Linked DNA regions of Homo sapiens: region 2 is linked to region 1. Evidence: fine-mapped expression QTL. A gene starts in region 1. The other region holds a variant in brackets. All regions are shown on one strand. Distances are between the middles of the regions. Region 1 holds the start of CACNA1B (calcium voltage-gated channel subunit alpha1 B). Region 2 overlaps CACNA1B (calcium voltage-gated channel subunit alpha1 B).

Region 1 (10,923 bases):
CAGCAGGGCTGTGAGGGGACCCCAGTGAGGGGACTGCAGCTGCCCCAGCTCCACGGCGCAACTGAGCTTCAGAGAGCACACGCCCGGGCCTCACACGCTGGGCCTCCTGGCCTCAGCTTGCCTACCCTGTGAGGACGACCACGAAGTCCATGACGTTCCAGCCGTTCCGCAGGTAAGAGCCCTTGTGGAAGACAAAGCCCAGAGCGATGATTTTGATCCCTGCCTCGAAGCAAAAGATCCCGATGAAATAGGGCTCCGTGTCGTCCTAGGAGAAGCGCAGAACAGTGGTCACCCCTGGCCCCTACCCGGTGTAGTAGCGGGCAGAGACGGTTGGTGAGGACCCCACCCCACCATGTGCAGGCCACAGCTATCGTGAGGGTCTGACCCTCCTCACCTTGCCCCCAACACCCTGCAGATTCTCCAAGGAGCCATTCCCATCACTGAGCCTGCTTGCTGTCTGCACATGTCCCCTAATGGGGACACCACTGTTTACAGCAGCAACATCCCAGTCATGCCTGCAGGCCCCTCGTGCCTCCCACCCTGGCATCTCAGCTTCTGCCCACGTCACAGTGGGGCCCCAATCTCCCTGCTAGCACCATGCAGTGGGCCTTGCTTCGGGGAAGACAGTGATGTAACAGTACTAGTTGTGGGTGCTTATCAGGTAGTTTTTCCTTTATCAACTAGGGTGGCCCTTTAATACCCCATGAGGTCATCCCCATTCTAACATGTGGGAGACAGAGGCACAGAGATGCCCAGGAGCCAGGCAGAGGCCACAGCAGCCTCTGGGTGGGAACCTGCACAAGGTTGCCTGGATACAGCTCAGGCTTTCTTGAACTCAGTCCAGGCCCCGTTTATGCATTCAACATGCACCCGGGTAACCAGAACATGCACATCTCGGCAGAAAACAACAGAAATGAGAAGCACAACCTCAGCCCTGAGTGTGCTGAGCGACGACCGCCACATCTGTGAGGACCCTGGAGGCAGCCAGCCACAGTCTGAGCCTGAAGCTGGGAGCCACCCTGGGCTCAGACCGCAGGGAGCCTCCCAGAGGGCGTGGCGCCTGCAGGCAAGGCTTCCACAGCTCGATTTTGAGAAAGGGATCCAGGTGGAGGGAACAGAGCAGCCAAAGGAATGAAGACAGCTGATCCTAAAAAGATCCCTTTCCTGCACCCCAGGCTGAGCTCCAGCCAACAGTTACTGGACATGAGAGAGCAGAGCCAGGCCCTACCAGTGCCGAGCTGGAAGCAGCAAACAGGGTGGAGATGGGGCTGTGTGGAGCTTAGGGAGACCCCAAAGACTCCTCGTGAGCACACGCGTGGGGCTGGCAGGGAAAGGCCCTGTGCAAGGCAAGCCCGGGAAGCTGGGCTGAGGGAGCTGCATGTGCAGGGTTGGCATGGGGGTGTCGGACACCTGCACTCCAGGGCTGCTGCCTTAGGAAGCAGGTGAAGGGGTGGGGAGAGGAGACCAGCTTCAAGGGCCTCCCCTGAGGGTTCGTCTTCAGGACTGTGGAAGTCACAGGAAGAAGCAGCTGCTGGGCTGCCACAGAGCTGCCAGGTGAGGTGAGTGCCACCAGTTCCACAGCCTGTGCCTTCCTCCCCAGGAAGCCAGGCTCTCGAGGGCTCTCCGCATCTGACTCCCACCTTACTCAGCCTGGGCTCCTCCTGTCCTGTGGTGGAGCTGGCCCAAGGCTTGGCTGGCAGTACCTGGTAGAAGCTACCAGCACCCAAGGGTCCATCATGACCCGTGCTGACTCGCCCATGCTCTTCCTGGCCTCGAGCCTTCTGGTCTGATTTGTTTAGGAGGGACCCCTTTTCCCAAGGGGTGGGGTTGCTGACCATCTGCCCCAGGGGAACAGTGGGGCCGCAGCAGACAGAGATCTTCACAGGAAACTTCCTGGTGAAAAAGAGAACAGGCCCGACGCCTAGGAAGGACCAGCCAGCACCCTCAGCTGGGAAGGAGCCCCCAGCCCGAGCCCTCTCCTCACAGCTCTGCCCTGCCCAGCCCATGGCTGAAGGCTGGCTTAGGTGGGAGGGATGGGTGTGCAGGCAGCTTGGTGTTGCACTGCAAGCTGGGGCCTGGCTCGAGGTAGCTCCAGAGTCGACGGGGAGGTGGGAAACAGCCCCGAGAGGCAGGGAACCAGGGAGGCCTCGCCCAGGGCCAGGCTGGGAGACAACTGAGGGGCTGCCCCTGCACCACCCAGCCTCGGCCTGCTCTGTGGGCAGCAGCACAGCCTCCCCTCCATCCCAGGGGACATCAATGGCTGGGCCTGCACATGGGACTGGGACTGGTCAAGAGCTCCCCAGACCTCTAGGCTGGCTCAGGGCGGGCATGTTCTGCAGTTTTCCCAACAGGTTAGCTCGCCACTCCTAGAAGTGTCCTCCCCAACCTATGACCACAAAGTAAACCCTCCCACACCTGCGAGGCAGGAACTTGCAAGGCTGGACACCCACTGCCTGGCAGGGCAAGACAGCTTGATCCTCCCTGCCCCCGCCCCGGCCTGGCTCCTGGGCCTGCGTCCCTCTGACCCTGGCCCTGCCCTCCTTCCTGTGACTTGGCATTCAAGGCTCTCTGCCTGTTTCCTCTCAAGCTCACCCTCTTCTCCAGCCTCCAGAAAGCAATGGGCCCCACCAGGGTCCTGCCCAAGTCCCCCACAGGGACCATGACTCACGCCTGCCTCATGGTGTGGCTGGGCTGTCCATGCTCCTCCTCCTCACCCGGCCGTAACCCAGACCACTGGGCATTCCAGACTGTGCTCCATTAAGACCTCCTCACCTCGGCCACCCATAACTCACCTCCTGGTGCCTCACCTCCAGGACAGGCTCCCTGTCTCCCCTTCTGCACTCCTGGGCCTGCGGTGGCCCAGGTTCAAAGGGAGTTCAGTTTCAGGGCTAAAGTCTGAATAGCTCTTGTCTCAGGATGCTAGTGGGGGCGGAAGCCAGGCTTAAGGGAAGAGGGAGCAGCTCCTGACACCCCAGAGAGGCCGTCTCCTGGACGCCTCTGGCCCCGCACCCCCTGGGCCCCCACTTGCTCTGCCTTCTGCTCACCTGGAGGCTCCAGTCTTTAGGCACACTCGGAACCCAGACATGGGGCCAGGCATCAGGGAAGAGTGGGGGCTGGGGGACATGCTCTGACCTCAGAAACTGCTCACCTCCAAAATGCTGCCCTTCCTCTGACCCAGCCCCTCCAGAGACCCCACAGGGCTGGCCTTCCACCTTGCCTCCTGTTGAGCCACGGAGACCTTGCCCTGGCACCCTGACTCACACAGACTCTATGCTCCAATGGGGGCTACCACGGGGGCCTCTTGGCTGGAATCTGGGGACAGGTAAAAATGATTCAGAATGTTTGAGAAGGAATGCTTCCCACAGGATGGTGAGGCCCACTGGAGAAGAGGTTCCAAGCAGGCCCGCACAAGACAACTTGGAGGATGAGGCTCAGGGTTCCCACATCCAGGCCAAAGCCCATCTCAGCCCAGCAGGGCACACATGGCATTCAGAGCTGACCTTCCCGAAGACATGAATGCCCCTTCCCCACCCCAAGTTTAGAACATGGTTTTCTGGATCAAAGTCTAGCGCCGAAAGCCAGGACAGCCATTGAGGTGCAGGAGTAGCTCGTGGCACAGGGCAGACTGGCCCAGGGCTAACGTGGCCACGCCCAGGGCTAAGCCGGTGACCCCAGCTGCCCTGGCCCTCGAGGAAGGTGTTATCTGCCAGGCCTACCTTTTCCTTCAGACGCGAGGGGCACTGCCCAGACGACCCTGCCCGAGGAAGCTGTTCTCAGGCACAGACCATAAAGGAAAGTGGAGTCGCGGCCTCCCCACCACCCTGCCCTCAGGCCCAGCCGGGCACTCACCAGCCGCTCGGACATGGGCGTTTTGTCCCCATCAGGGAGGTGCTGCTCCAGGGCCAGCACGATGCAGTTGGCGATGATGGTGGCCAGGATCATATACTCGAATGGAGTGCGTGAGTTAAGGACTGGCCGGCAGACGCCGCACGGAGGGAAACACGAGGCCGACGCCAGCAGAGCCCAGTGCAGCAGCCACCGCTAGGCCGTCTCCGGAGGGGCTGAGACAACTGGGTCCGGAGCCCCTCTCCTGGCGGAAGCGGCCTGGTCTCCCTCACTCCCTGCCCCCATCCCTAGGGGCGGCCGCGAGGCGGGGCCTCCGCAGTCTGGGCCGCCAGCCCCTCGGCACACCCGGGCGGCCGTCAGCACCGCGGACAGCGCCTCCGGCCCGGCTCCGCCCGACTCCAGGGCCCCGAGGGGAGGGGGCCGAGCGCCCCCAGGCGAGGCTGGAGGGAGACCCCGCGCAGGCGCACGCTGCTCCCTCCAGACACGCAGCCACATGTACCTACACAGGCACGTGAACATGCATGTAGCCCGCATCGCGAGCGCACGCACGCGCAGCGCCAGGCTCCAGCTCAGCCCGCACACGCAGGCACCTGCAGCCAGGCGCGCGCACGGCCGCGTCCCCACAGCGCTCGCACCTGCACGGACGCGGCTTCGCCCTCGGTGCCCTCCAGGCTAGCCGCGCACTGTGCACCGACCAGGATCCCCAGGACCCGGCGTGCGGAGGGACGAGTCCGGAGCAGAGGGGCTCCGCCCCGCGCCCGCCGCACTCACGGAAATGCTCCCGCACCCGCCGCTCCGAGGGGCCCTGGGGCGCTCCGTACCCCCCTCGCCCGTCTCCCGACGCCTCCCCAGGTCGCGCCCTCCCGGCCACCGGGAAGATGGCCCCGGCCCCGGCCCCCACCCCGGTCCCCGCCCGGCCCCGCCCGGCCCCGCCCGGCAGGATATGGCCACTCGGTGATGCGCTTCGCGTATTTGCGGACGACGTTGTCCTCGCTGAAGACGAAGAGCGAGCGGTTGACGGTGAAGCAGTTCTGCTTGACCGGGATGGGGTTGTACAGCGCCATGGTCCGCGCGCGCTGCGCGATCGATTGCTTGTAGAGGACCCGCTGGCCGGGCTGCAGCCCCCCGGGACCCGGGCCCCCCGCCCCGCCGGCCCCGCCGCCCCGGGCCCGCTCTCCGCCGCCGGGGCCCCCATAGCGGCCGCCCAGCTCGTCCCCGAAGCGGACCATGGCTCCCGGGCCCCGCGTGCATCCCCGGCCCAGCGGCCCCGGCAGGGAGGGCGCGGGGCGCGCCAGGCGCTCAGAGCGGAGCAGCCACGGAGCCGCCGGGACCGCAGCGGACCTCGCCCGGCCCCACCGCCGCAGCCGCCGCCGCCTCACCCGACTCCGCGGCCCCGCGCCACGCCCTATAAGGGGCCGGTCACGTGGCGGGGCCCGGCCAATCCGCGCCGGCCCCGCCCACCCTGCCGCGCCGGCCCCGCCCCGCGGCCGCCCCCGCCCCGCCCCGGCCCCTCCGGCTGCGCCTCCCTCGCCCCGCGCCTCCCACCCCGGGGCTGGGCCGGGCCCAGGAGCGGACGAGCCTGTGGGTCCTCGACGGCCGCTCAGCGCCAGCCCGGGCCGTCCCCGGAGCCCACTCTGCCGGCCGCACCGCCCCTGGGTGCCCTCGGCTCCTCAAACTCGGCCCAGACGGACCCCTCGCTCCGCCCGGAGGCGCCACCAGCCCTGGGGCTGCAGCCCAGAGCTGGGCGCCAGGCCTGGGCCGGCCCGCCCCGTCCCCGCCGGGTCCCCGGCCTTCCCAACCCTCCGGGTGCGCTCGGCTCGCGGCCTTGGTGCCACGCGGACGCTTCTGTCGGGGGCCCCCAGCCCGGGTGCGGGACCTGCTGTTTCCACGCACGGGGCTGGCTCCGGGATCTCAGCTCAGAGAAGCCTCTGACCGCCTTGCAGGCCACGCCCCGTTAGGGAACCTGTCACGGTCACTGCCATTCCCCAGGCCTCCTTGAGCGCCCACCGCGGGCCGGGCCTGTCCTGGGCTCCCAGCTCTGCCCTCACGGAGCTGACCGTTTTGTACAAAGCACAGCAACCATTTACACAGCGCTCACTTCGTGCAGGCCCGTGGGTCCTCACAACCTCCAAAAAGGCGGCCCCGGGGTCGGGGAGACCTTCGGGAACAAGGGACCCTCTCGGACCTGAAGCTCGCTCGCAAGGCGCTGAGTGCAGAGTGAGGCCGGGTGCGGGCTGCGCCTTCTGAGAGGGAGGCAGTCCGCACAGTTCCGAGCAGAGGCGCGTAGGCCTCTGAAGGGTCCCTCGGGCTGCCGTGTGGAGTGTGGACTGCAGGAGGCTGGGGTGCTGAATCACTTAGGATGCATTCAGAGGCGAACAACCCGCTTCCCAGCTAGCAGCAGCTTGCACGATGCCATTGTGATCTCACTGAATACGAAGCCACCATCTCTCCTCCCTCCAAAATCCCCACATACACTTTCTGCCTTCCTGCCTGTTGCCTCATGCCCCAGGGTGGCTGTCATAGCACAGGGCATCACACCGCTACACCAGCATCTCAAACGGGAAGGAAGTGGCAGGTGTACAAAGGATGACCACTTTGTGAATCAGGTTACGATTTTCTTTTCTAACAAAGGAAAAGCTTCTCAGAGGCTCCCCCTGCAAGTGTCTCTTTAACCCCGTTAGGCCATGGGCCATGTGGCCGGCCCTGACTTTAACAGGGTGGGAAAGTGAACATGTGTCAAAGTGGACCAGGATGGCCAGCCCCCACTAGGCGAGCACATAGTTGCCCCAAACAAAATCAGGGTTCGCTTAGCTGGGAAGCAGGTGCTAAGGCTGTCGGGGAGGCTGCCAACTGGCCTGTCACAGAGAAAAATCAGAGCCCAGGGAGGGGTTTTGACAGCAGCACAGAGAGAGATGATGTGGTTTGAACATGGGGGCCATGAGCAGTGCCTCTTTCTCTTAGAGAGAGTGCGTCCAGTGTAAATGTGAAGGAGAGATAGAAACACAGGCTCTTCATTTTTGGTCTGAGTGACTGAGTCGAGGGGGATGCCCTTTGCCGAGATGGGGAAGACAGAGGGAAGAGCTTGTTAGTCACAGGGTGGAAATTAAGAATTGCCTACTGGGGACAGAAGTGGAGATGCTATGCAGGGGTGGAGTTTCTCGAGGGATGCCAAGACGAGAGGCCACTGCTGCAGCCCTGCGCCTGGAGGCTGGGCTCGCCACATCTGCTCTGCCCTTCCCTCCGTGCTGCGTGACGCTGGAGCTGGCCTTTGAAAGCCACATCAGCCTGTTCCTTGACCTGTGGTTTCTGGTTATGCTAGCCCAACAGGAGCACCAAAGGCCCTTGAGGGAAGGAAAGAGCAAGGCCAAGGTGTCTACTATTCCCCTGACTTCCTCCTGCCAGGTCACCGAGGGTTGGCTGTGCACCTCAATTGAAGCTCCGGCCCTGTCAGGCACCCACCACTCTCCTTTCTCTCTCTCCAGTTCCAGTTCCTGCGTCCTCCCCTTGTTCCTGCCAGCGGGGGATGGCATCACGCAGGCATGGTGAATCCTGGCCCTTGGGACTTCCCTGCGCCTTGCACAGATCGCACAGATTGTGGTAGATGGTCCCTTGCAAGTGTCATCCTGCCTGATGCATCACCACCGAGGAAGCGACCGAAGTCAGAGACAGAGGATGCTGCCACTCCCCAAGAATGAAGCCGGTGAGGAGGAGCAGCCAGGGCTGTGGGGGGTCGGGGGAGTGCCCTGTCCCGGAGCTGAGGGAGGAGTGCGTGTAGTCCATAGAGATGAGGACCGACATTCAGCCATCAGAGTGGAAAGACAGAGGTGCCCATCACCCGGACAGCAGTTTCCACAGAGGAGCAGCCCGAGTGGGGCGGATTGAAGAGAATGAGTTGTGAGGAAGTCCCTACAGCGGGTGTAGACAGCTCGTTCAGTGAGGAAGTCCCTACAGCAGGTATAGACAGCTCATTCAGTGAGGAAGTGCCTACAGCAGGTGTAGACAGCTCGTTCAGTGAGGAAGTCCCTACAGCAGGTATAGACAGCTCGGTCAGTGAGGAAGTGTCTATAGCGGGTGTAGACAGCTCGGTCAGTGAGGCAGTGCCTACTGTGGGTGTAGACAGCTTGTTCAGTTAGGAAGTCCCTATAGCGGGTGTAGACAGCTCGGTCAGTGAGGCAGTGCCTACTGCGGGTGTAGACAGCTTGTTCAGTTAGGAAGTCCCTACAGCAGGTGTAGACAGCTTGGTCGGTGAGGAAGTCCCTACAGCAGGTGTAGACAGCTCGGTCGGTGAGGAAGTCCCTACAGCAGGTGTAGACAGCTCGTTCAGTGAGGAAGTGCCTACAGCAGGTGTAGACAGCTCGTCCAGTGAGGAAGTGCCTACAGCAGGTGTAGACAGCTCGTCCAGTGAGGAAGTGCCTACAGCAGGTGTAGACAGCTCGGTCGGTGAGGAAGTGCCTACAGCAGGTGTAGACAGCTCGGTCGGTGAGGAAGTCCCTACAGCAGGTGTAGACAGCTCGGTCGGTGAGGAAGTCCCTACAGCAGGTGTAGACAGCTCGGTCGGTGAGGAAGTCCCTACAGCAGGTGTAGACAGCTCGGTCGGTGAGGAAGTCCCTACAGCAGGTGTAGACAGCTCGGTCGGTGAGGAAGTCCCTACAGCAGGTGTAGACAGCTCGGTCGGTGAGGAAGTCCCTACAGCAGGTGTAGACAGCTCGGTCGGTGAGGAAGTCCCTACAGCAGGTGTAGACAGCTCGGTCGGTGAGGAAGTCCCTACAGGAGGTGTAGACAGCTCGGTTGGTGAGGAAATCCCTACAGCAGGTGTAGACAGCTCGTTCGGTGAGGAAGTCCCTACAGCAGGTGTAGACAGCTTGTCCAGTGAGACAGGGAACAACACAGATGCAGCATTAAGGAGTTTTTTGTTTGTTTGTTTTTTAAGGTAGGGGATATTATTGGACTTCGTATGTGATGGCAATGACTCAACAGAAAGAAAAATTGCTGATGCAAGAAAAAGAGTGTCTTGCCTCGTCCAGGCAAGAGGGCATCAGACTTGGGACAGCTCACTCGAGGCAGGGAAAGAAAAGCGGGTCGCACGATTGCAGGCACAGGTGGGCTGGAGGATTCATTTGGGGGAGGATGAGGGTTTTATTGTGATTATTCTACTTTCTCAGTGAAACAAGAAACAAAACAAGCAACTGAGAGTGAGAAGGGGGCATTTGCAGGTTGGCGAGGGAGGAGAGGGTTTGAAATGCTCATCCAGGGCTATAGGGAAGAGAATCCACAAGAGAAATGTGTAGAGTTGACAAGTCTGGAGCTGGGGGTGACTAAGTCCAGGACAGGCTGCGTGGTGGGCACTGCTGCAGTGTCTAAGCCAACGACCAGCGAGCTTGTCACCCCTCGAGGGTCCCATCTTCCTCCGGACCCTCCAGCACACTTGCTCACAGCCCCTCCCCCATCCCTCTCCAACCTCAGAGTCCTTCTGCTGCCCCCTGTCCCCCACCCCCATCCCTCACTCCCTCACCCTCTTTCTCACCTGGCAGAATTCCCATCTGGAACCTCCAGAGACACCCACCCAGGCTCCCGCCACTGGGGAAGGTCACAAATTGGACAGACTGGTGTCACTCTGGTTCCCCAGAAACTCCTCCAGGGGTCCCAAAGTTGGTCACAGCCCTTGCGGTGGGAGGTGGTGGTTGTAGCCACACCCCGGCCGCCCTCCACACTAGGCTCCTGCACCCCACCCTCCCAGCACAGCACCTGCAAGCCCAGCACCTCTTCAGTTGTTCCTGCGATGTCCCCTGTAGATCTCAACTCTGTCACTGTGTGCTGGGTCCCCTTATGGGGAAGCGGGGAGGAGAACTAGGAGGGTTTTTTTCTTTTTATATAATTAACATTTAATTCTACAAATAATAACAGGCACTAGGGCTCTGTGGAAGACACAGAGGATCCCAGCATCCAAGCACGGTGCAGCCCCTCCCGGACTTCCGCATCTCAGAGGTCATCACTGTCCAGAATTTTGTGTTCACCGTTCCCTTTCTCTCTGTACATCTACGTGCAATTTATTGTGCAGTTGTACATGCTTTTGAAATTCATTTCTTTTTAAAAAAAATAAAAAGTCTCGATCTGTTGCCCATGCTGGAGTGCAGTGGTGCCATCTCAGCTTGCTACAACCTCTACCTCCTGGGTGTAAGCAATTCTTGTGCCTCAGTCTCTGAGTAGCTGGGACTATAGGAGTGCGCCACCACAACTGGCTAATTTTTTGTATTTTCATAGAAGACAGGGTTTTACCATGTTGTCCAGGCTGGTCTCGAACTCCTGAGCTTAGGCAATCCGCCCACCTGGGCTTCCCAAAGTGCGGGGATTACAGGTGTGAGCCACCTCGCCCAGTCCCATGCTTTTGAAATTCACACAAGAGAGCTAAGCTGTCGTCCTGTGGTGCTGCAGCGCACTGTGTTGTTGGGTGTAGCTGTGAATCACTTGTTTTCACCACATATGTTAGTCTGTCGTGTGACAATTTATTGATCCATTCTACTTTGACGGAGATTTGTGCTGCTGTCCAATTCCTGCCATTTCAATTCTCCAATGAACATTTAATGTCATTCTCCTGGTGCTTGGACAAGAGCCTGCAGGTCTAACCCGAGGAGAGAAATTGCTGGGCCATGGGACGTGCCTCTCGACCTCACTGGATGCTGCTAACTTAGGGCCCGAAGTGCAGCGATGACCGTCCCGCAGCACCACACAGACCCTAGCTCGCTTGGCATTGTCTCCAACACTCTAGTGTTATCAGCCTTCATGTTTTTGTCAGTCTGGTAGGCATTTCAGGTCCCTCACTCTGTTTTAATCTGCTTTTTCCTGCTCACTAATGGAGTAGGGCATTTTCTCACATTCCTTGCCCATTCACGTCTTCCCCTTTGCCAAAACGCCTGTTCAAATCTTCCACCCACTTTTCAACTGGATTCTGTCTCTCCTTCTGATTGACTTGTCGAAGTCCTTACATGTTCTGGGCACAAATCCTCCATCAGATGTGTATAGTTGCAGTATCTTCTCTCACTCTGTGATTTGTCTTTTGCTTATTTCATGATTCTTTTG
Region 2 (10,923 bases), 150 kb before region 1:
TAGAGCTCACCTGAACCAACCAATCAGAGTTCACTTGCCTCAGCCAATCAGAGCTCAGCTATATGGACCAATCAGAACTCAGCTGTGTCAACCAATCAGACCAAGCAAGTCTGAATCCTTCATTTGCATAAAGGGACTTGATTAAGCACCTGGGCAGGAAATGTCAAAACTTCTCTTTCTCCTCTGGAATGCGCCTTCATTTTACAAGGAAGGCTGCATCTTCCTGGTTTGCAAACTATTCACTAGAATAAAGCCTGTTTCCTCCAAACTCCTTTTCAGAGAACTTTTGTTCACAGTAAGTTATGGGAATCGTATGGATGTTTTTGAAAAGTACAAGTTTCAATAAAGGAGGTATCTAAAGCAATTGCTTATTACTAGCTATTTTAACTGGTAATCAGGAAACAATATGTGAAGCATTTTATGTTCTATTATGACTGTTTATTAGTTTTCATTGTTTATCTGTGCTTTATATTTTACAAAATCGGTTAGGAATTTTTAGCGGACACATAACACATTATAATGTTTTACCATTTAAAATAATGGGGCCAGGCACGGTGGCTCACGCCTGTAATCCCAGCACTTCGGGAGGCCAAGACAGGTGGATCACTTGAGGTCAGGAGTTTAAGATCAGCCTGGCCAACACGGCGAAACCCTATCTCTACTAAAAATACAAAAATTAGCCAGGTGTGGTGGTGGGCGCCTGTAATCCCAGCTACTCGAGAGGCTGAGGAAGGAGAATTGCTTGAACCTGGGAGGCAGAGCCGAGACCGTGCCACTGCACTCCAGCCAGGGTGACAGAGCAAGGCTCAGTCTCAAAAAAAAAAAAAAAAAAAAAAAAAAAAGGTTGGGGGGGAGTGGAAATGAGACCCTCTTTTAGAACATTTGATTTTCAGGAATGGAGCTGTGAAGTTAAGCAATAGATAACTCTATGTCATTGATATTTAAACCTTATGATCCTCAAATGTGACAAAAGAAAGCTACAGAACACATCTCGCTTAAAAATATCAATCCAAAAATCCTACAAAAAATGTTAAAGAGAATCCAATGGCATATTACAAAATAAATATAATAACCACTTGGATTTATTCTAAGATTGCAAAGATATTTCATATCAAAAAATTCATTACTATAAATCCCCATATCTAAGGAGAAAAAAATATATGATCTCTATGGATGCTGAAAAGGTCTTCAAGAAAATTCAACATCTATTCCAGATAAAAACACTTACTGAAGTAGGAACTAATGGATACCACAACATAATTTTACACACACACAAACAGACACACACACACATCCCTCAGGCCCCAAACCAAAATTTTATTTAATGTAGGCGGAAACAAGGTAATGCCCAGTAATTCCATTGTTATCTGATAGTGAAATCAGACAAAAAAATAATAATGAGTGGTGTAAGACTTAGAAAGAGTTAGAAGTATATTTGCAGAAGTTTTGATAATATATCTCGGAAAAAAAGGGGGAATCAGTGAAACTAATAAACAATTTGAGGATTCAGAAAAGTAGCAGGATACATAATCAACATATAAAAACTAATAGCCTAGATTTCTGTTTCTAGTAGAAGTAATAATAGGGACCAGACAATCAGTTGTTTTTAGCAATCGAAAACACCAGACATTAAGAGAATGAAAAACCAAGCCACAAAATGGGAGAAAATGCTTGCAAAAACACATATCTGATGAAAGACTTGTATCCAAAATATACAAAGAACTCCTAAAACTCAACAACTAGAAAACAAACAGCCAGAATAAAAAGTGGGTAAAAGATTTGAATAGGAATCTCATCAAAGAAAATTATACACATGGCAAATAAGCACATTAAAAGATGCTCAACGTCATATGTCATTAGGAAATTGCAAAATAAACAAGATATCATTACACGCTTAATTAGAATAACTCAAATCCAAAACACTGACAACACTGAATATTGGCAAGGATGTGGAGCAACAGGAACTCTCATTCATTGCTGGTGGGAATGCAAAATGGTACAGTCCCTTTGGAAGATAGTTTGTCAGTTTCTTATAAAGATAAACAGTCTTACCATATAATCCAATAAGCATGCTATTAAGTATTTACCCAAATGAGTTGAAAACTTATGTCCACACAAAAACCTGAACATGAATGTTTAAAGCAGTTTTATTCATAATTGCCAAAAATTGGAAGCAACAAGATGTCCTTCAATAGGTGAATAAATAAACTGTGGTATGCCCAAAAGACAGACTATTAATCCAACGCTTAAAACAAATGAGCTGTCAAGCCACAAAAAGACACAAAGGAAACTTAAGTGCATATTGCTAATGGAAAGAAGCCAATCTGAAAAGGCTGCATACTGTATGATTCCAACCCTATGACAGTCTAGAAAAGGCAAAACTATAGGGACAGTGAAAAAATCAGTGGTTGCCAACAGGGGTGTGGGGAAGAGCATAGGGAGCCTGGGGAGGAGTCACATCTGGATTCCTGCAGATAAAAGCCAGGTAGGGAACCTAGGCTCATCCTCAAGCTGATCCACAGAGAATCAGGTGAGGGAGCTGGGCAGGCAGACTCACTTGTGCCCATGGGAAGTGAACAAGAAAATGAACCAAGGGCAACTTTCCTCCAAGGAAGCAAAGGAAAAGGGGAGGCTGAGCAGTTAGAGGCTGTGTCTTCCATGGTTATACCTGGAATTGTGCGCCAGTCCACAGGCCCCAGGTGAGAGCACCTGAGCAAGAGAGAATGTCATGCACATGTGTGTGTCTGGAGATCTGTCTGCAAACATGGGCACGCACACGTCTGTGTGTGCGGATGCATCTGCAAACACGGACATGCACACATCTGTGTGTGGAGATCCGTCTGCAAACATGGGCATGCATGTGGTGGCACCTGATTGAGTCCGTCTGGTCTGCTTAAGACCTAAATGCTTCTGCTGGCATTCATGTGAGTCCTGTTTCTATGGCCTCTCTTCTACCCCTTTTTTCTCTGTACTTAAGAAAGGAGGGCTCCTCCTTGATGCCCATGAAACGCCCATGCACCTTCCCCACCACGTAAGGGGCCTGTATTTGTAACCAGCAGATCTCTCCCTATTAGACAGGTTTCAAGACAGGAATGACATCTTGGTCCCCTGTGCCCTCAGGGACTGCACACAGGCAGGCATGGAAAGGCTGTTCCGAGCATGTGAGTGAGCAAGGGGAGGAAAGAAGGCAGCTCAAATAAAGGCCTGGGAGCACAGCCTCAGAGCAGGGATGGCACAGGCCCATGAACAAATGGGCAGACGCAGTGGAGAGCCTCCTCCTCTGCAGCCCCTCGCTCTCAGCCCCAGTCAAGGCCGTGGACAGAGTCCTCAGCCAGCAGCTTTTGTGCAACCATCAAGAGTTGTGCCTGTTTTGTGGTCTGTCTTCCTGACAAGACTGTCTCCCTCCTACTATGCTCTCAGCACTCTAACACAGCACCTGGCACTTAGTTGGCAACGTGCAAATATTTTGGGAAGGAAGGAGAATGGAGCTCAACCTCAGTTATCTCTGGGGCACTAGAAATCAACAGGACATCAAGGGACAGATGTTGACAGCAAAGGACTCTCTCTCCAGCCAGGAGAACAATTCACAGAGGTAGGCTGGGTCCCCAGTGGCTGCTGTGGAGCAGGAGGGAATGGGGGTTGCTGGACCTGCACAAGATGGGCCCTGCCCCACTGGCACAGGGAGATACTCACTGGGAACGACCGTGGCTTCCCCAAGAGGGCCCGTCAGCATCACTGGGATATGTACAATAGTGTTCGGGTCTGGGGGCTGACTGCCCATGCGAGTGACGTTCCGCTGATTGTCTGCATCCTCTGGCTGTTCCTCCACCTTCTGGAGACAGGTGCTGGGCAGTGTGTGCATGGGACCCACAGTCACAGTCCCACTGGTCTCCAGGTCACAGTGTGGCTCCCTGCAATCAAGAATGTACATCAGGCCTCGGCGCAGTGGCTCACACCTGTGATCCCGGCACCGGGAGGCAGAGGCAGGAGGATCACTTGAGCCCAGGAGTTCAAGACCAGCCTGGGGAATATGGCGAAACCCCATCTCTACAAAAATTAAAAAATTAGCTGGGCGTGGTGACACGTGCATGTAGTCCCAGCTATTCAGGCTGGGAAGGCTGAGGTGGGAGGATCGCTTCAGCCCGGGAAGTTGAGGCTGCAGTGAGCCATGATTGCGCCACTGCACTCCACCCTGGGCGACAGTGCGGTCCTGTCTCCAATAATAATAATAATAATGCACATCAGCAAAATCCTATCAACCAAAACCCTTAAGCCTCCATGCAGACCAACTAAATCCATAACCACCTGCTCTGCTACTCTGGCCTTCTGTACGTTTTTTAAATTACTCTATACACCTCCGTGTCTTTAGTCCGAAAGGCAGGGATGGGGCTGACCCACCCACACACAAAGACAGGGCGGCGGCTGGGTTGACCCTGGGCTGGGGCCTCCAGCGGCAAGTATTCTGGTTGGTTTGTGGCCAGTGGGTACCTGGCGACTGCTGGTCTTGGCCACTGGACCACTGTTACCCCAGGCCCTCACGGGGTTGGTGAGTCCTGCCCCAGGGAGCAAGCTGGGCTAGCTGGGGTTCTTTCTGTCATGGTCACACAGCCTGGCCCCCACACCCCGCTCTGCGCCCAGCCCACTGGCCTGCTCAGGCTTCCCTTGGGCCCTTCTGCCTCTCCTTCCTCCACTGCAATCCCCAACTTTCTCTTCTCCCAGGGCCACTTTGTTCTTTCCAAGCCAGTCGCAACAATTCCCCCTTAAGCCCTCCCTTCTTAAATAACGGCTGGCATTCACGGAGCACAAACACTCTGCCAAGCCTTTTACGGAGCATACACGCCCTGCCAAGCCTTTTACAGGTCAACCCTGCAAGGCAGGATTGTCACCACCCCACGTGAACGGCATGCAGAGACCCCAGCCCCGACGGCTCTGGACATGGCAGCGTGGCCGGGGCTGCAGCCTCCGCCGTGGACCCCATGGCCGCAGCCACCGCTGGGGCCCGCGCCGCCCCGGCCAACCCTTCCCTCCCTGACCCCGCCCAGCCGCGGACTCACCGGGGCTGGTGGTTCCGGAGCTCCTTTTCCTTGTCGGCTTCCACTATCTCAGCCTCCTTCTCCGTGGCCTCCTTCTCCGTGGTCTCCTTCTCCACAGCCTCGTGAGCAGGCTGCGCCTTGTGCCGGGCCCGGTGCCGCCGCGCCGGCTCCTCCCCGCTCTCCGCCTCCCGGGGCCCCGCTCGGGGGCCGCCGCGGTGCCGCGCGCGCCGCTCGCCCTTGGCGCCGGCGCACTCCTTGCTCGGATCCTGGTGCCGGTGCGCGCGGTGGCGTCGGGGCTCCCGCTCGGCCGCCTCCTCCGGGGAGCCGCGCCGGTGGTGCCGCCGGCCGCCCTCGGGGCCTGGGCCTCGGCCGCGCTCGCTCCGCGCCTCCGGGGGCCCCGCGGCCTCCTTGCTGTGGCTGCGGTGCGGCCGCGGCCGCTCCTCCCGGGCACCGGGCTCCCCGCTCTCCGCCTTCGGGGCCTCTGCTCGGTCCTGGTCCCCCGCCGCGGGGGTCTTGTCCTTGTCGCGGTGCCGGTGGTGCCTGCGCGGAGGGTCGACGCCCTCGGGGGCCTCCGCAGCCTCAGGTCGGGCTTTGCCTCCCACGGGCCCCCGCGCGCCGTCGCGGCCCAGCTCCACCACCAGCGGCCGGTCCAGGTGCGTCTTCATGTCGGGCCGCAGGTGGCGCGTAGTGGCGAAGCGCAGCCGCTCCTCGGGGTCCATCTCGCTGTACAGCGCCTCGCAGCTGGCCCGCAGGTTCTGCAGCCGTAGCTGGCTGGCCCGCTGCTCCCACACCGAGCGCGCCTTGGCCGAGTTCTGCTGCCTGCTGCGGGGAGACTGGCGGTGAGCGCGGCCCCGTCTGCCGCCCGCCCGCCGCTCTCCAGGGAGGCCACAATG[C/G]ACACACAGCAATGGAGTAATGGCGCAGGGAGGTGGGAGGCGTGGCCGCGGGAGCCCCCACACCCCTCGGGGGACGCGGATCAGGTGGGGAACGCCCAAGGGAACCGAATTCAGCCCCGCCGCCCCCCCCCCCCACGGTGTCCCACAGGACCCGCAAGGTGAAAGCACCAGCCTGTCAGGAGGACCCTGGGGGGCTCAAGGAGGCCGAGGGGTACAGGACAGTGGGAATGCACCAGACAGGCCAAGCAGGTGGGTGGGCGGCTGGCCAGGAAGGCCACCGCGGGAGGGAAGGGCATGTTACAAAGGGCAGGACGGATGGAGAGGCAGGAGCCAGGGAGGCCCTGTAGCCTCCCTGGGAGCTGGCCCCTGCTGCAGCACCAGCACAGCTGCTACAGGAAGGGCGGGACACGCGGCCCCTTCTCCAGAGGCACTTCCCCATCGCTGCCTCCAGGAGGCAGGCCACCAGCCAGGTGAAAAGGCTGTTTGCCAGGGAACCCAGAGGGCAGTTGCTGTGGCAGAGCAGACAGCAGCCAAGGGAGCACCTGGCCCTTTCAGGAGCAAACGCAGAGCCTCTGCCAGTCCCCGAGGTGGTCAGCCGCAGCCCCGCAGCTGCCCCCTGGCTCAGTGACCAGGAGCCCAGAAGTCAGGTCTGAAGCTGGAAATGCCACCTCCCGTGGCCACCAATGCCCTCCTCTCTCTTGACTCCATGGAGAGCCCCTCCCTCTACTGGGAGCAGAGCCAGAACATGGTCCTCGGAGCCCTCCAGCACCAGGGATGGCCAGTGGTCCAGGCTCGGCCCTCACTGCATGGGCTACCGAAGGCCTTGACCCCTACTCCAATGTCATGGGCCCAAGCACCTCCTCTATTCACACATCACACATGGGGCTCCATAGCCCAGAGTGCACAGGAAGCCCTTTGCATTCTGGGCCTTCTGCTGAGTAAGACCACCTTTGGATAAGGTCTTATTATCCCAAAACTAAGCCCCACCATCGCCAGGGAGAAACCTCATCTGAGGCCAGAGGCCCGCCCTGGAGCCTCCAAGGCTGCTGGATGGCCTTGGCGGCAGCAGTGACTACACCAACAATGAGGGCCATGGCATCTGTGTCCTGCAACTGCCACGTGGTGCTCTGGGCGCAGTGCCCACTTCATCCAGTCCTTACAACCACCTCAAGAATCAGGTGCTACTCTTGTCCCCATTTCACAGATGAAGATACTGAGCCTAGAGAGAGGATGTTACTTGCTCAGGGTCCCACAGTGAGTCAGGATCAGACACAGGCAAGGGCAAAAAGGAAAAACATTTCTAAAGAAGACACGAGTCCTTGGCCAGACCCCAACTGCACTAACAACACAGGCTACAACCACGGCCTGCAGAGGCCCAGGCCGGCGGCCACCAGCTCCGGGGCCCTGAGCCGCTGAGCACCACTCTGACCTGCAAAGACAGAGCAGCCAGATGTGGGAAAGCCCAGTCCCTGCAGCCGGCCCACCCCAGGCAGGTGAACAATAAATCCTGCCCCTTTGTAGAAGTCCAGGCTGCAGTGGGAGCAATGTCCAGGGGCAGCACTTTGCACGAATGAAAGCGGAAGTGTGGTGTCTGTGTCTCACCTGGGAGCTTGGGTGGGGTGGGGGCAGGCAGGGCTACCTGTAGGGGCCGTCTGCAGACCCCCAGCCTCAGTTGAAGCCCCAGGCCCTGACCTGTATCCCTGATGCATTTAAACTGTGCTGCCCCTGCTCCCAGGGGTGCCCTACAACTGACCCACAGAAGACCCACCAACCCCAGCTGGGACCAAGACAAAAGGGCTCTACTGCCAACAGTGCTGAGTGGTGTAAAACAGAAGGCAGCCCCAGGGGCTTGCACCAGGCACAGGAGCCCTGTGAGGGCGGAGGCTGTTCACTGCCTCAAGCCTCCCAGTCCACTCCAGTGCCCGAGAGGGGCCTGGGCTCTGAGCCACTTGGTCAGCAGGGTGGCCCGCTCTGATGAAGCCGTGAATCTTGGGGACCAGCATTGCAGTTCCAAAAAGACAGGCAGTGAGGACCATGGGGAACATGCAGAGGCACAGGGTCTGTGTGAAGGTGGGGTGGGCTCCAGACCATATAGCTCTGCCCTCACCCTTGCATTCAGGTGTGGCTCCTTCTCGCCCAGGAAACACCTGGAGCAGGGAAAGGCCAGGCTGTCTGCTGGGCTGAGGGCGCTGTCAGGCTGGCAGGCTCCCCCGTGACCACCCAGGCAGAGCAACATGCTGAGCAGCCTACGCTAGGGCACCTGCCCGCCCCCCGCAGCCCCACTGGTTCCACCTGGCCTGTTCCTTCCGGGCCTATCTGCCACTGTCAGCCCTAACGTCACCAGAGACTGTCTGCATCTGCCCTCACTCGGCCAGCACCACCAAGTTCCTCTCTGGAGGTATCCCCTAGGTCTCTGAATCTGCGTGCCGGGCCTCTCTGCATGGTGTCTTAAGTCAGCCTGCACCTCCCCTGGCCCCTGTCTCTGTCCTTGCTCTATCTGGCACATATCCACACCAACTTAGAGTGAAGTGTGGCTGGTGATTAATCCAGGCAAAGTCCTGGTTTAAAAGGGTTCTTTAAGGAAGTCACATGGACGACTGGCACCCCTGTGTCCTGGCCTCAGCTGGTAGGCACAACCCAGCTGTTCCAGGGAGGAGGGCTCAGCCATGCTCAGCTGGGTGCTGTGGGGAACTACAGGACTTGGAAGTGGCCTCAAGGCGCTCTGTGGCCCTGCTTTGAGGTCTCTGGGCTCAGACAACCCGGAACTGCTGACAATATGAAGCAGCCCTGGTGTGACACCATGGATACCTGCCATCTGCATTTTTTTTTTTTTTTTTTTTTGGGAGACAGAGTCTCGCTGTGTCGCCCAGGCTGGAGTGCAGTGGTGTGATCACGGCTCACTGCAACCTCTGCCTCCCGGGTTCAAGCAATTCTCCTGCCTCAGCCTACCGAGTAGCTGGGACTACAGGCGCCCGCCACCACTCACGGCTAATTTTTTGTATTTAGTAGAGACAGGGTTTCACCATGTTGCCCAGGCTGGTCTCGAACTCCTGAGCTCAGGGAATCCGCCCACCTCAGCCTCCCAAAGTGCTAGATTACAGGTGTGAGCCAGCGCGCCCGGCCACCATCTGCATCTTACATCTTATTCCACCCCGCGGATGGATGCAGGATCCAGCATGCTTTCTTGCCCCAGGAGACATCAGTGCCTCTGACAGCCAGCAGCAAACAGTGCTCGTGGAAAGACTGAGCCCAGCTCCATGCTGGCTGCCAGCAAGGAAGCACTGGGCAGGGCGGGGGCGGCAGGGGCCTCACCACCACTAGGACAGGGACAGGACACCTGGCCACTTCCATCAGGGCAGGTGGCCTAACTGCACCTGGCCACTTCCATCAGGGCAGGTGGCCTAACTGCACCTGGCCACTTCCATCAGGGCAGGTGGCCTAACTGCACCTGGCCACTTCCATCAGGGCAGGTGGCCTAACTGCACCTGGCCACTTCCATCAGGGCAGGTGGCCTAACTGCACCTGGCCACTTCCATCAGGGCAGGTGGCCTAACTGCACCTGGCCACTTCCATCAGGGCAGGTGGCCTAACTGCACCTGGCCACTTCCATCAGGGCAGGTGGCCTAACTGCACCTGGCCACTTCCATCAGGGCAGGTGGCCTAACTGCACCTGGCCACTTCCATCAGGGCAGGTGGCCTAACTGCACCTGGCCACTTCCATCAGGGCAGGTGGCCTAACTGCACCTGGCCACTTCCATCAGGGCAGGTGGCCTAACTGCACCTGGCCACTTCCATCAGGGCAGGTGGCCTAACTGCACCTGGCCACTTCCATCAGGGCAGGTGGCCTAACTGCACCTGGCCACTTCCATCAGGGCAGGTGGCCTAACTGCACCTGGCCACTTCCATCAGGGCAGGTGGCCTAACTGCACCTGGCCACTTCCATCAGGGCAGGTGGCCTAACTGCACCTGGCCACTTCCATCAGGGCAGGTGGCCTAACTGCACCTGGCCACTTCCATCAGGGCAGGTGGCCTAACTGCACCTGGCCACTTCCATCAGGGCAGGTGGCCTAACTGCACCTGGCCACTTCCATCAGGGCAGGTGGCCTAACTGCACCTGGCCACTTCCATCAGGGCAGGTGGCCTAACTGCACCTGGCCACTTCCATCAGGGCAGGTGGCCTAACTGCACCTGGCCACTTCCATCAGGGCAGGTGGCCTAACTGCACCTGGCCACTTCCATCAGGGCAGGTGGCCTAACTGCACCTGGCCACTTCCATCAGGGCAGGTGGCCTAACTGCACCTGGCCACTTCCATCAGGGCAGGTGGCCTAACTGCACCTGGCCACTTCCATCAGGGCAGGTGGCCTAACTGCACCTGGCCACTTCCATCAGGGCAGGTGGCCTAACTGCACCTGGCCACTTCCATCAGGGCAGGTGGCCTAACTGCACCTGGCCACTTCCATCAGGGCAGGTGGCCTAACTGCACCTGGCCACTTCCATCAGGGCAGGTGGCCTAACTGCACCTGGCCACTTCCATCAGGGCAGGTGGCCTAACTGCACCTGGCCACTTCCATCAGGGCAGGTGGCCTAACTGCACCTGGCCACTTCCATCAGGGCAGGTGGCCTAACTGCACCTGGCCACTTCCATCAGGGCAGGTGGCCTAACTGCACCTGGCCACTTCCATCAGGGCAGGTGGCCTAACTGCACCTGGCCACTTCCATCAGGGCAGGTGGCCTAACTGCACCTGGCCACTTCCATCAGGGCAGGTGGCCTAACTGCACCTGGCCACTTCCATCAGGGCAGGTGGCCTAACTGCACCTGGCCACTTCCATCAGGGCAGGTGGCCTAACTGCACCTGGCCACTTCCATCAGGGCAGGTGGCCTAACTGCACCTGGCCACTTCCATCAGGGCAGGTGGCCTAACTGCACCTGACCACTTCCATCAGGGCAGGTGGCCTAACTGCACCTGGCCACTTCCATCAGGGCAGGTGGCCTAAC

The links.
Region 2: its variant is fine-mapped to the expression of CACNA1B in thyroid (GTEx, PIP 0.98).

What each region holds. Positions count from the first base shown.
Region 1 is chr9:137,872,086-137,883,008 of GRCh38, reverse strand. It overlaps CACNA1B (calcium voltage-gated channel subunit alpha1 B), which reads right to left and starts at 5,227. Exons shown (of 47, transcript NM_000718.4): 1 at 4,792-5,227; 2 at 3,850-3,955; 3 at 126-265. The coding sequence starts at 5,075. CACNA1B-AS2 (CACNA1B antisense RNA 2) reads left to right here. Exons shown (of 4, transcript NR_121583.1): 2 at 7-172; 3 at 7,329-7,546. RefSeq lists enhancers at 1,349-1,850, 4,119-5,034, 8,269-9,468.
Region 2 is chr9:138,017,943-138,028,865 of GRCh38, reverse strand. CACNA1B (calcium voltage-gated channel subunit alpha1 B) reads right to left here. Exons shown (of 47, transcript NM_000718.4): 19 at 5,055-5,855; 20 at 3,694-3,911. Among named protein-coding and RNA genes, the nearest start is that of CACNA1B-AS1, 76 kb to the right of the region's middle. The variant C/G (reference allele first, on the strand shown) is at 5,927.